3 linked regions of the Homo sapiens genome follow. The protein of the gene in region 1 interacts with the protein of each later gene in a pairwise test. Each region holds a gene or a part of one and is shown in the gene's direction. Other genes may lie near its edges. The genes, in order: LUZP4, CLK2 and HSF2BP.

Region 1 (4,295 bases):
CCCAAGAGGAGCCTGGGAGGTTAAGGCATGCCAACCTTGGCAACAGATCGAGGAAAGAAAGAAAAAAGAAAAGAAAGAAAAGAAAGAAAAAGAAAGGAAGGAAGGAAGGAAAAAAGGAAGGAAGGAAGCAAGGAAGCAAGGGAGAGAAGGGAAGGGAAGGGGAGGGGAGGGGAGGGGAGGGAAGGGAAGGGAATAGCCGGGTGTGGTGAGGGAGGAAGGCCGAGGCGGGTGGAAAGAGAGAAGTTAGGAAGAAGGAAGGAAGGGAGGGAGGGAGGGAGGAAGGAAGGAAGGAAAAGAAAGAGAGGAAGGAAGGAAGAAAGAGAGAGAGAAAGAAAGAAAAAAAGAAAGAAAGGGAAAAGAAAGAAAGAGAAAAAGAAAGAAAGAAAGAAAAGAAAGAGAAAGAAAAGAAAGAAAGGAAGAAAGGAAGGAAGGAAAAGAAATAACCAGGTGCGGTGAGGGAGGGATGCCAAGGCAGATGGAAAGAAAGAAGTTAGGAAGAAGAAAGAGAGGGTGGGAGGGAGGAAGGGAGGGAGGGAGGAAGGAAGGAAGGAAAGAAGGAAGGGAGGGACAGAGGGAGGGAGGGAAAGTGTGGGCGCTGTGGTATGAGGGTAGCACAGACGGGTAGATCACTTGAGCCCAGGAGACCAGCCTGGCCAACATGGTGAAACCCTATCTCTACTAAAAACACAAAAATTAGCCAGGCGTGGTGGCGCGCTCCTGTAATCTCAGCTACTTGGGAGGCTGACGTGGGAGAATCGCTTGAACCCCAGAGGCGGAGGTTGCAGTGAACGGAGTTGGCGCCACTTCACGCCAGCCTGGGTGACAAAGAGATACTGTGTCTCAAAAAAACAAAAAACAAAAAACAAAAACGAAAAGAAAGACAGAAAAGAAAGCGTGTGGCATTGCAAACCTGTGAATCCTCCCTAGATGTTAAATTTGTGCTCCCTCTTGGAATTTGAGAGAAGCAGAGCATCAGCCCATTAAGTCAAGATTATAAGGTTTTATTCGCCATGAATGTCAACAGCAAAGAGGAGAAATGGGTCCTAGGAACTGTGAAAGGCAAGGGCCGGAACACCACATACACTAGAAACTTGTAGCCAACTACATAGTGCTCTAGGTGGAGAGAATATTTTTAGAAAGGGGTATCGGGTGGGAGATGGGCGGGTCTTTCCTTTTTTTTTCTTCTAGCGAGCCAAGCTCCTGATAGGAGACTTGGTGAGGGGTAACGCCAAGCTCCACCCCTTGGGGCTTAGCAACACCGAAGGGAGAGGCTATGATTGGAGGATCAGGTTAGTCCACCACTCTGCTCCTCCTGCGCGGTGAGGGGGTGGTACACGCGCCCTACCTCGGAGTGTGTGGCGCCATGATGCAGGGAAGATGGCTTCGTTTCGGAAGCTAACGCTTTCTGAAAAAGTGCCGCCAAATCATCCCAGTCGGAAAAAGGTTAACTTCCTAGATATGTCTCTAGGTATGTAGATCTCGGATCCCAGTCTCCACTAGTTTGGGCTCACTGGTCTTGAGCGCAAGACCTCGGCATAGCGCTTACTAGAAGTGGCGTCGGGAGGAACACACCAGTTCGAGGAGAGGCTTCCCCTTCAGGGCATCTCCGCACCTGCCCCACCCTGACGAACCCTGGGACCACTTGGCCCCTATCCCTCCTCTCCTCTTTTTCTCCTCACCTCCAGCCCTCTCCTTTCAGGTGGGGAACTGAGGGAGGCTGACCAGAAGCGCGTGGGGATTAAGGATTGCTGAAAGGGGCAGGCGGAGAAAATAGACCGCTATTAACGTGTATTTTACTCTCCTAAGAATTGATACCTAACTACTGGCCTCCTTCAAACACATGGAGCCAAGTGCTCTTCTCAGTCCAAGCGGATGTCATAAATCACTAGATTCCAGGGCCCGGAGGAGCAAGCCTTAGGCTATTTTACTAGGGATCCCGGCGTGGTAGTGCTAGGAGTTGTTGGTGGGTTGGTGTATCTGCTTTGTTGGCTGGTGGTTATTCGAAGGGGTGGTTGGTCCATTTATTTGCTTGTTGGCTGGTGGTTATTCGCTCTGGATAGCCTTTCTTTGCTGGCGCTCTCTAGTCTCTAACCTGAGACCTCTACACGGAGAGTGGAACCTTAGAAAAAAGAACTCCTTTATCAAGGCCCCTAACCTCCTCCATTCGCACCAAACCCAGAAAAAGTGGATTTTACTTGGACCAGTTCCTCTGCTATTATCCATCTTAGAAATGGGGGAGGAGGGGAGGGAATAGACTTTCCAAGCCAGATAGGGAGTGAGCAGAGCTGAGTAGAGAGGATGGAAGCTGACTTTAGAAATGGAGAAGGGCATCAGAGCACGGAAGAAGGAAACTGTAGAAATGGGGGAAGGAGGACAAAACAGAAAAGGGCTACTTTAGTTAGGGGTGTGTGTGTGTGTGTGAAACGTGCTTGCTCTGTTTCTCAGGCAGGTGTGCAGTGGCATCATCTTGGCTCAGTGCAGCCTCCGCCCCCTGGGGTCAAGCGATCCTCCCACCTCAGTCGACAGAGTAGCTGGGACTACAGGCACGCGCCACCACACCTGTCTAGGTTTTTGTTTTTTTGTTTTGTTTTGTTTTGTTTTTTAGTAGAGCGAGGTTTCACCATGTTGCCCAGACTGGTCTCCTGGTCTCAAGTGATCCGCCCTTCTCGGCCTCCCAAAGTCCTGGGATTACAGGCATAAGCCACCGCCCCCGGCCTAGTTAGTTATTTTTGAGATAAGGTCAGGGACTGTTGTCTGGGTTGGAGTGTAGTGGCACGATCACGGCTCACTGTGGCCTCAAGCTCTCAGGCTCAATCAAGTGATCCTACCACCTCAGCCTCTCGAGTAGCTGGAACCACAGGTGCTCACTACCATGCCCACCTAATTTTTAAATTTTTGTAGAGATTGGGTCTCCTTATGTTGCCCAGGCTGGTCTCGAACTCCTGGCCTCAAGCAATCCTCCCGGCTCGGCCTCCCAAAATGATGGGATTGTGGGCCTGAGCCACTGCGCCTGGCCAAGGGCCACTTTAGAAATGAGAGGGGGAGAGGCAGAGCAGTGGGAGCTGAGCTTCAATGTGGAAGCGCAGGAGTGGAGCAAGGAGAAGCAGGAACAAGGAGGGTGGACCTCAGAAATTGATGGAGCAGTGGAAAGAGGGTTCACCTTAGAGATGAGGGTAGGGGAGCAGAGCAGGGAGGGCTGAACTTTAAAAGGGGCAGGATAAGTGGAGGGAGAGTGTACCATAGAAATGAAGAGGGTCAGCTGGGCTTGGTGGCTCATTCATGTAATCCCAGCACTTTGGGAGGTTGAGGTGGGTGGCTCACTTGAGGCCAGGAGTTCGAGACCAGCCTGGCCAACATGGTGAAACCCCATCTCTACTAAAAATACAAAGATTAGCTGGGCATGGTGTTGCGTGCCTGTAGTCCCAGCTATGCAGGAGGCTGAGGCAGGAGAATTGCTTGAACCTGGGAGATGGAGGCTGCAGTGAGTTGAGATCGCCCCACTGCACTCCAGCCTGGGTGCCAGAGTGAGACTTCATCTCAGAAAAAAAAAAAAGTAATGAAATGAAGAGGGGCGCCATGGCTCATGCCTGTAATCCCAGGAGGCAGAGGTCAGGCTGGTCTTGGAACTCCTGACCTCAAGTGATACACCCACCTCGGCCTCACACAGTGCTGCGATTACAGGCGTGGGCCACCTCACCCGGCCTAAACTTTCTTTATAGTGTCCTTTGAAGTCCCGAAGTTTCAGAATTTGATAAAATACAATTTATCTGTTTTTTGTTGTTGTTCATGCTTTGGTGTCAAATCTAGAAGATCATGAAGATCATACCCTTGTTTCCTTCTGAGAGTTTTCTAGTTTTAACTCTTAAATTTACATCTGTGATCCATTTTGAGTTAATTCTTGTATATGGGGTGAGTTAAGAGCCAACTTCATTCTGTTGCATTTTGATGTCTAATTGTTCCAACACTACTTGTTAAAAAGACTAATTTTCCTCCATTGAAAGCTCTTCTTGGTGGAATTGCTTTCTTAATTTCGTTTTTGGATAGTTCATTGCTGGTATATGTACATAGAATTAATTTTTGCATATAGATCTTGTATCCTGCAGCCTTGCTGAGTGTGTTCATTAGTGCTAATCTCCGTGTGTGTGTGTGTATCTTTAGGAATTTCTGCATACAAGATCATGATATCTGAGAACAGAGATTTACTTTTTTCTAATCTGCTTGCCTTTCATTCTTTTTCTTGACTAATTGCTCTGGATGGAATTTCTAGCAAAATGTTAATTAGATGCGGTGAGATT
Region 2 (3,500 bases), on another chromosome or scaffold:
TTTACACAAGTATGTGGAATCAACAGCTATGAAGTACCTCCTTGTTGGATGGCTGATGGGCAGATGGGAGCTCATCAGACAACCCCCCTTCCCCCATCTCTCTTCTCAGCCTCTGTGTCCAGATGTTTGACTGGTTTGACTACCATGGCCACATGTGTATCTCCTTTGAGCTTCTGGGCCTTAGCACCTTCGATTTCCTCAAAGACAACAACTACCTGCCCTACCCCATCCACCAAGTGCGCCACATGGCCTTCCAGCTGTGCCAGGCTGTCAAGTGTGAGTGGGGTGGGCCGAAGTGGACTCTGGGGCAGTCCCTCCCTTCATTGGATCTCTCTGTCGGTTGTGCACTGGTGAAGCCCCTAAACAGTCAGCTGTCTGTTATCTGCAGTTCTTTGATTTACTGTCATCTTGAAACGTCTTCTGACTTAACTCCTTGACTGATGTCTTTATCGTCACTGATTGCTCTTACTCTACACCTAGCCTAGCAGCAGCTAGAAGAGAAAGCCTTTGGAATCAAAGCACTTAATTACCCTCCCCTTTTCCTTTCTCCCTTTCTTGGGAAAGCATCAGTCAGACAGCAAACATAAAGAGACAAAAATACACTCCTTAGGGTAAAGGCTTACATTTGTCTGGGATGAGATGTTCATTCACAGCAAAGGAGATGGGAACACAGAGTATGTAGTTCAGCTAAGGGGCAAGGTGGGGAATTCAAAGAAATATATCATTCCTCTGGAGTCATCAAAATAATACAGTTTCACAGAATTGAGTTAACATAATGCCAGCTAGACACATGTCAAAGTGTGTACACACTACAACTCAAAGCAAACTTTTTTTTTTTTACATCAGTTGAGCTACATATGTATCTTACATTAGAAAGAGCAGAGCTTCTTAGACCAGGCATTCCATTTAGACGTAGAGCAGAAAGCAGCCCTAGTGATTCTGGACCTGTCTCCTCACTGGCTTTGCCCTAGGTAACCAGGCCTGGGGTCAGCTGATACCAGTTAGCTCTGGCCACCTGCACCAAGCCTGACCTGGCCTTCTCCCCTACAGTCCTCCATGATAACAAGCTGACACATACAGACCTCAAGCCTGAAAATATTCTGTTTGTGAATTCAGACTATGAGCTCACCTACAACCTAGAGAAGGTAAGATGGATAGGGTCTGCCCTTGGTTACTGGGGGCAGGCAGCTGCACCACTTTGCCTTCTGCCGAGCCCTTTGTTTTCTCCCTTTTATTTCGTCCTCCCACATTTTCTCCCTGTCTGGCTCCAACTGGGTAAAACTAAATAGGTTGAAAGGGAGAAATCTCTTAAGAAGACTTAAATTGGGAGATAACTTGTACAGGGGACTTCAGATAACTTTCCAGTAGAGTGAAAGTTTTTAAGGTTCTTGGTTTGGACTTTATTTATTTATTTATTTATTTATTTATTTATTTATTTGAGACAGAGTCTCACTCTGTTGCCCAGACTGATGTGCAGTGGCATAATCTCGGCTCACTGCAACCTCTACCTCCCAGGTTTAAGTGATTCTCCTGCCTCAGCCTCTGGAGTAGCTGGGATTACAGGCACCCGCCACCACGCCTGGCTAGTTTTTGTGTTTTTAGTAGAGATGGGGTTTTGCCATGTTGGCCAGGCTGGTCTCGAACCCCTAACCTCAGGTGATCTGCCTGTCTCGGGCTCCCAGAATGCTGGGATTACGGGTGTGAGCCACAGTGCCTGGCCCGGACTTCTTTTTTGAGATGTGTATTTCTGTGAGGTAGGAAAGCTCGGCTCCTTTGACTAACTGGAGATAATGGAGATCTCAGACCTAAAGAAGCTCTCCCTCCTTTGACCCCTTTGCTACATGTTACATATTTTTAGAGAAACTCCTTTGCTACATGTTACATTTTTTCAGAAAAACCCATTTGCTACATGTTACATTTTTTCAGAAAAACCCATTTGCTACATGTTACATGTTTTCAGAATAACTATATATCTGGCACTTGAGTGTAGTCTTCAGATGCTTACAGATGTGCACGCTGTTCTATAATCATTTCTTAATCCTTTTGCTCCCCTACTTCTAAAAGTATTATGCTGGATGTGGTGGAAGCTGTAAAACAGGAATTTCCCAGGGCTTGTAAGGCCAGGCAGGAGATCACAGTACCTTTTTTAAGGCTCAGAAGCAATGTAGAGAATACTGGTGGAATCTCAGTCTGGGTGCAGAGGTTCATCCTCTTTCTCCTCTGCTCCTAGAAGCGAGATGAGCGCAGTGTGAAGAGCACAGCTGTGCGGGTGGTAGACTTTGGCAGTGCCACCTTTGACCATGAGCACCATAGCACCATTGTCTCCACTCGCCATTACCGAGCACCAGAAGTCATCCTTGGTAAGGGAGGGCAAGGCTGTCCAAGTGTGTGAGATGATGTGAGGGTGGGGCCACCTAAGCCTCATAACACCTTTTCCCTCCCATTCTCACCCAGAGTTGGGCTGGTCACAGCCTTGTGATGTGTGGAGTATAGGCTGCATCATCTTTGAATACTATGTGGGATTCACCCTCTTCCAGGTAAGTGATGGGATGTCTTACTTGACTGCCTGGCATTCTTCTACCTGGTTCCTTTGTTTTCTGCTGAGGACCTGCCTACTCAGTTCTCCACATTGCCTGCCTTCCTGGCAGCTGATCCTTAGCATGCCCTTTTCAGTCCCATGCTCAGTTCTGTTTTTGTTTCCCAGACCCATGACAACAGAGAGCATCTAGCCATGATGGAAAGGATCTTGGGTCCTATCCCTTCCCGGATGATCCGAAAGACAAGGTGAACCTTGAGGGGGCACTAGTTAACTCTTTTCCTTTTCTCTCCACAGAATTGGTCTATTTCACATCATTTTCTTTTTTCTTTGATACCTCCTCTCCCCCCAGTTACTTTCAGATGGGGAAATAAGGGAATTGTAACAAGGGTGACCTTCTGATTCCTCAACCTCCCCTTCCCCTCTAGAAAGCAGAAATATTTTTACCGGGGTCGCCTGGATTGGGATGAGAACACATCAGCTGGGCGCTATGTTCGTGAGAACTGCAAACCGCTGCGGGTGAGCTGGGCTCGGGATAAATAGTGCCCACCGTCCAGAAGTCACTTCCTTCTTAGGGTGGTTTGCCCCCTGGAATGCTCTTCACAAGCAGAGGGTTAGGAAAGGAGGGGAGGAAAGCTGAAAGAAGACATCTTTGGTCAACAGAGGAAACATAAGAGGGAGTGGTTTTGTGGAGGGAAGGAGGTTAGACAGCCTAACCTTGAGACAACCAGAGATCAAAGCAATGTCCTGGATTCTTTAGGTCAGACAGAAAAGAATAAACTACCTTTGAAGAGCTTACATTTTAATGAGGAACTAAAGAAGATTCATGAAGTTGACAAGGATATACAAGTAGAAAGAACTTTCAAAGATTATGGAGTAATTGTGCTAGTGGGAAGGTAGGTTGAGCTATAATATCAGAAACGTTGGTCCTGGTGTGGTCGTGGTTAGGTAGCCTTCAAATTGG
Region 3 (3,718 bases), on another chromosome or scaffold:
AGGTAAATAATTGTAAACGAATTTTAAGGTACTCTTACAGTCCTTGTGATGATATTTGGGAGAGTCTGATGACCTAAGAAAGGGAGGTTTCCTCAGTGTAGTGACTTGGACATATGTAAGTTGGTATAAGTTGGTTGCCAGTTTTCTGAGCATCTATTAACAGCTTCTCTTTCTCTCTCTCTTCATTGGCAGAAGAATTTTATACTTTTGATAACTGAAAAGCTCTATTCTGAAAATTAAGTACTTACTGTGTAAGTTAAGGATCTTGCCAAATGGAAACCTTGCATGGAGTTTACTTGTCAGTAGAGATAGCTGGAAGTGTGTTCACTTATCTTTAGGTGGATGGGTGAGCCAGTATCTAGAACTGATTGAAGTTTAGGCTTTCTGGTGTCCATTCAGACTTTTGAGATTTGAGCTGAGCTGTTATGTTGAATACCAGTTTAGGAGCCTATTGAAGTTCCTGGACATACTCTGAGATTGTCTCAGCACTTGCTTGATTGAGGCCAAATCATGATTAAATCAGCCTTTGACGGTAAAGGCCAATTTACTGCATGACATTTGGTTGTTATCCCTCCCTGTGTGCCCTCTAGAAAAGGTGCATCCAGGGGGCCCAGGTAGCTGTAGCACTTGTCCAGACAAGAAGATAGCTCACCCCGAGAATATGAGTTTCTGGCATGTGCAAACGTATCTGGTCAGTGGGCCAGCCACATCCAGTTAGAAGGGACAGTTCTCATCCACCGTACCTTGTCCTGTTTATATTCTCTCCGAAGTCCTTGGATCCAGTCTTCTCTGCCCTGTGGTGTGCTCTGGGAGGTAGATCCCTACAGATGGGGCTCTCCTGGTTCCCTTGCTGGCTGCCAGTGGGGCTCACCAATGGAAGGCATTGCTGGGTGGAGAGAGAGGTTGGGGTGTTTCTTCCTGCTCCCTCCCTGCTTTGCTGCTGTTTTGTGGCAGTAGCTGCATCCCTCCACAACAGAGACTCCTGTCTAGAGGCCTCTTCCGTAGTCCTAGCTCTTGCTGGACTGCCCCTGCTCCTGTGGCTGTAGGGCTGTTGCTAGTCCCTGGGTACCTCGCTGTCCCTTGGTGGTTCTGTTATCTCTGCTCTCCCCTCTGTAAGTGGTCCCTTCAGAAAAGTCTCAACATCTGGGTTGATTTCTCTTTCCCACTGGGACTCTGCCAGATACATGGCGTGTCATTGGTTGCCAGAATGCCAGGTCATTGACTTCTAATTTCTCTAGTTTTGATTTCATGCTCATCCAGCAACTTTCTGAGATTAGTCATTCCTTGTGCATTTATCTTCAGGAAAGGAAGGTAAATAGGCATACACCAGTAGCAGCGTATGGCAGCCTGCTGGTTGGTTATATTCTCACTGTAAATTAATAAACTGGCATTCTAAAAAATACATCAGGGTCTCATGAGTTAGTTAACATGAGTGTCTTTAGTGATCAGTCCCGCTGCCAAAATCAAACCGAGTGAGGGCCACAAACAAATCTGTGGTCACTTGATCACAGTCTGCCTTTGGGAGATCTTATCTCATAGTCCCGGCCTTTCCCAGGCTATAGAGTCACCTTTTTCCCCATAGTCTCTCTGGCAATTCCTGCTTATTCCCCTTTGCTGAAATTTATCCTTCTCTGCTTTGCAGCCTTCCAATAGGGCTTGAGACTCAGGCCTAGGCCCCGCTCATTGCCTCACCCCATGGCTTCTCCCTAGGCAGTCTCATGCACACTCACAGCTTCAGTTACCGTCTTGATGCCAGTGGCTGCTGGATTTACTCTCTAGCCCAGAACTCTCCAAGCTCACGGCCTTGTGCCTGACTCCGACTTGGCATTTCTTCCTGCTTGTTTCATGATTATTTCAAATTCTAAATGTCTGCCCTAGCCTAATCAGTCTAAGGTCGCCAGGAACAGACCCACAGTCTGACAGAGTGAGGTTTATGGCTCTTTGCAGTGAGGAAGACCATACCAGAACACCGAGAAACTGTGGGGCATGTCAACAAAAAAGAGGATAGAGTTGTTGTAGGACTTGGAGACAGAGTGGTATTAGGTGAAGCATAAATGAAGCAAAATAGAACTGTGTCTAAAGGGACCAATATTAAGTCTGACTGCGAAGCGGACCCAGGTCCCGTTTCCTTGAAAACTACAACGTTCAAATAGACGTGGAACATTGTTCTAGAAATCCCTTACTTGAAGCTCTGCAGTAGCTGGAAATAGGGTTCTTTTCTGTGTCACAGTGACTTAGATCCTGCAGGCAAGAGTGGGATCTTCTTACTTGTATAATTTCAAAGAACAAAATTTGTGCGAGTCTGGGATTTTACAGAATAAGGCTTCTCAGTGAATAAGAAGTTAGCAGTCACTCAAAGAAGAGGTCATTATGACACTTTACAGTTGCATTGTCTTTGAGAGATATTTTCTGTTAACTTGGCACCTGACTTTATCTGTGTTTGTTATTCCAGCCTGACAGAAGTCAGGACAGACTTTTGCTTTCTCGGTGCAAGCTGATTTTTACTTCCTGTTGTCATATCTGCCTCATGCTATCTGTTCCCTGCCCCTGTCTTACACTGGCCTGCCTCAGTCTCCCCAGAGCACCAACACCCAGACTAGAGACCCAGGAGTCTTCCTTGTTACCTGTCTCTCTTCCTCACTACTCCGCATGAAACCTGTCCGCTAGTAAGTCTTGTGAGTGTTACTTCATGGATGCATCCTGAATCATCAGCCTGCGTCTGTCTCCACTGCTGTGTTCTGCCTCCTCCTGGCGGTCTCCTCACTGCCACTCTCCAGTCCCTCAGACACACTGTAGCCTGAGTAGTTTGTGGCAGTTCAATCTGATGATGCCATTCACCTGCGTAAGTCTTCAGACGCTTCTCTTTGTTTTTAGGATAAAGAGCAAAAACCTAAAAACCCCACCCAGACTCATTATCATCCAAAAACCTAAGCAAAACCATACTACGGCTTAAAAGGCTTTATATTATTGGGCACAGCCCCGGCTCAGAGTCACTGCCTAATCTGACTACCTCGACATGATCAATCTTCCTTTGAAATGTTGTCATGGTACCCTATGCTTCCTTCAGACACATGGTTTTATTTCCATTTTACTTTATAAGCTGTTGGGAGTGCAGGGCCCCTGATTTTATCTGTCATTATCTCGGCCCCTGATTTTGTCTGTCATTATCTCCCTGGCTGATTATTCGGTCTTGAGGGAGCACCCTACTGTCTCTGCATGCCCTTCTTTCTTTCTCTCTCTCTCTTCCTTCCTTCTCCCTTCCCTTCCCTCCCCTCCCCTCCCCTTCCCTTCCCCTTCCCTTCCCTTCCCCTTCCCTTCCCTTCCCCTTCCCTTCCTTTCCCTTTTCTCTCTCTCTCTCTCTCTGTGTCTCTCTTTCTCTCTTTCTTCCGAGTCTCACTCTGTTGCCCAGGCTTGAGTGCAGTGGCATGATCTCAGCTCACTGCAACCCTGCAACCTCTGCCCCCTGGGTTCAAGCGATTCTCTTGCCTCAGTCTCCCGAGTAGCTGGGATTACAGGTGTGTGCCACCACGCCAGCTAATTTTTGTATTTTTAGTTAGAGACCAGGTTTCACCACGTTGGCCAGACTAGTCTTGAACTCCTGACCTCAGGTGATCTGCCCGCCTCGGCCTCCCAAAGCACTGGATTACAGTTATGAGCCACTGCGCCTGGCCTGATGCCCTTCTTTCTAGTTTGCAGTCCTATCTCATGAAACTCACAT

What was found.
Region 2: the proteins of LUZP4 (region 1) and CLK2 interact in binary tests that used the Homo sapiens proteins (3 or more experiments, as listed by UniProt).
Region 3: the proteins of LUZP4 (region 1) and HSF2BP interact in binary tests that used the Homo sapiens proteins (3 or more experiments, as listed by UniProt).

What each region holds. Positions count from the first base shown.
Region 1 is NC_000023.11:115,288,383-115,292,677, forward strand, and holds the start of LUZP4 (leucine zipper protein 4), read left to right. Parts: upstream 1-1,332; 5' UTR 1,333-1,377; coding exon 1,378-1,468; intron 1,469-4,295. UniProt on the Homo sapiens protein: Export adapter involved in mRNA nuclear export in cancer cells. Binds and enhances the RNA-binding activity of the nuclear RNA export factor NXF1. Can restore mRNA export function in cells compromised by loss of mRNA export adapters.
Region 2 is NC_000001.11:155,263,505-155,267,004, reverse strand, and holds part of CLK2 (dual specificity protein kinase CLK2), read left to right. Parts: intron 1-109; coding exon 110-276; intron 277-1,050; coding exon 1,051-1,145; intron 1,146-2,230; coding exon 2,231-2,360; intron 2,361-2,454; coding exon 2,455-2,537; intron 2,538-2,704; coding exon 2,705-2,784; intron 2,785-2,964; coding exon 2,965-3,055; intron 3,056-3,296; coding exon of another isoform or gene 3,297-3,326; exon of another isoform or gene 3,327-3,349; intron 3,350-3,500. UniProt on the Homo sapiens protein: Dual specificity kinase acting on both serine/threonine and tyrosine-containing substrates. Phosphorylates serine- and arginine-rich (SR) proteins of the spliceosomal complex.
Region 3 is NC_000021.9:43,652,807-43,656,524, reverse strand, and holds part of HSF2BP (heat shock factor 2-binding protein), read left to right. Parts: intron 1-3,718. UniProt on the Homo sapiens protein: Meiotic recombination factor component of recombination bridges involved in meiotic double-strand break repair.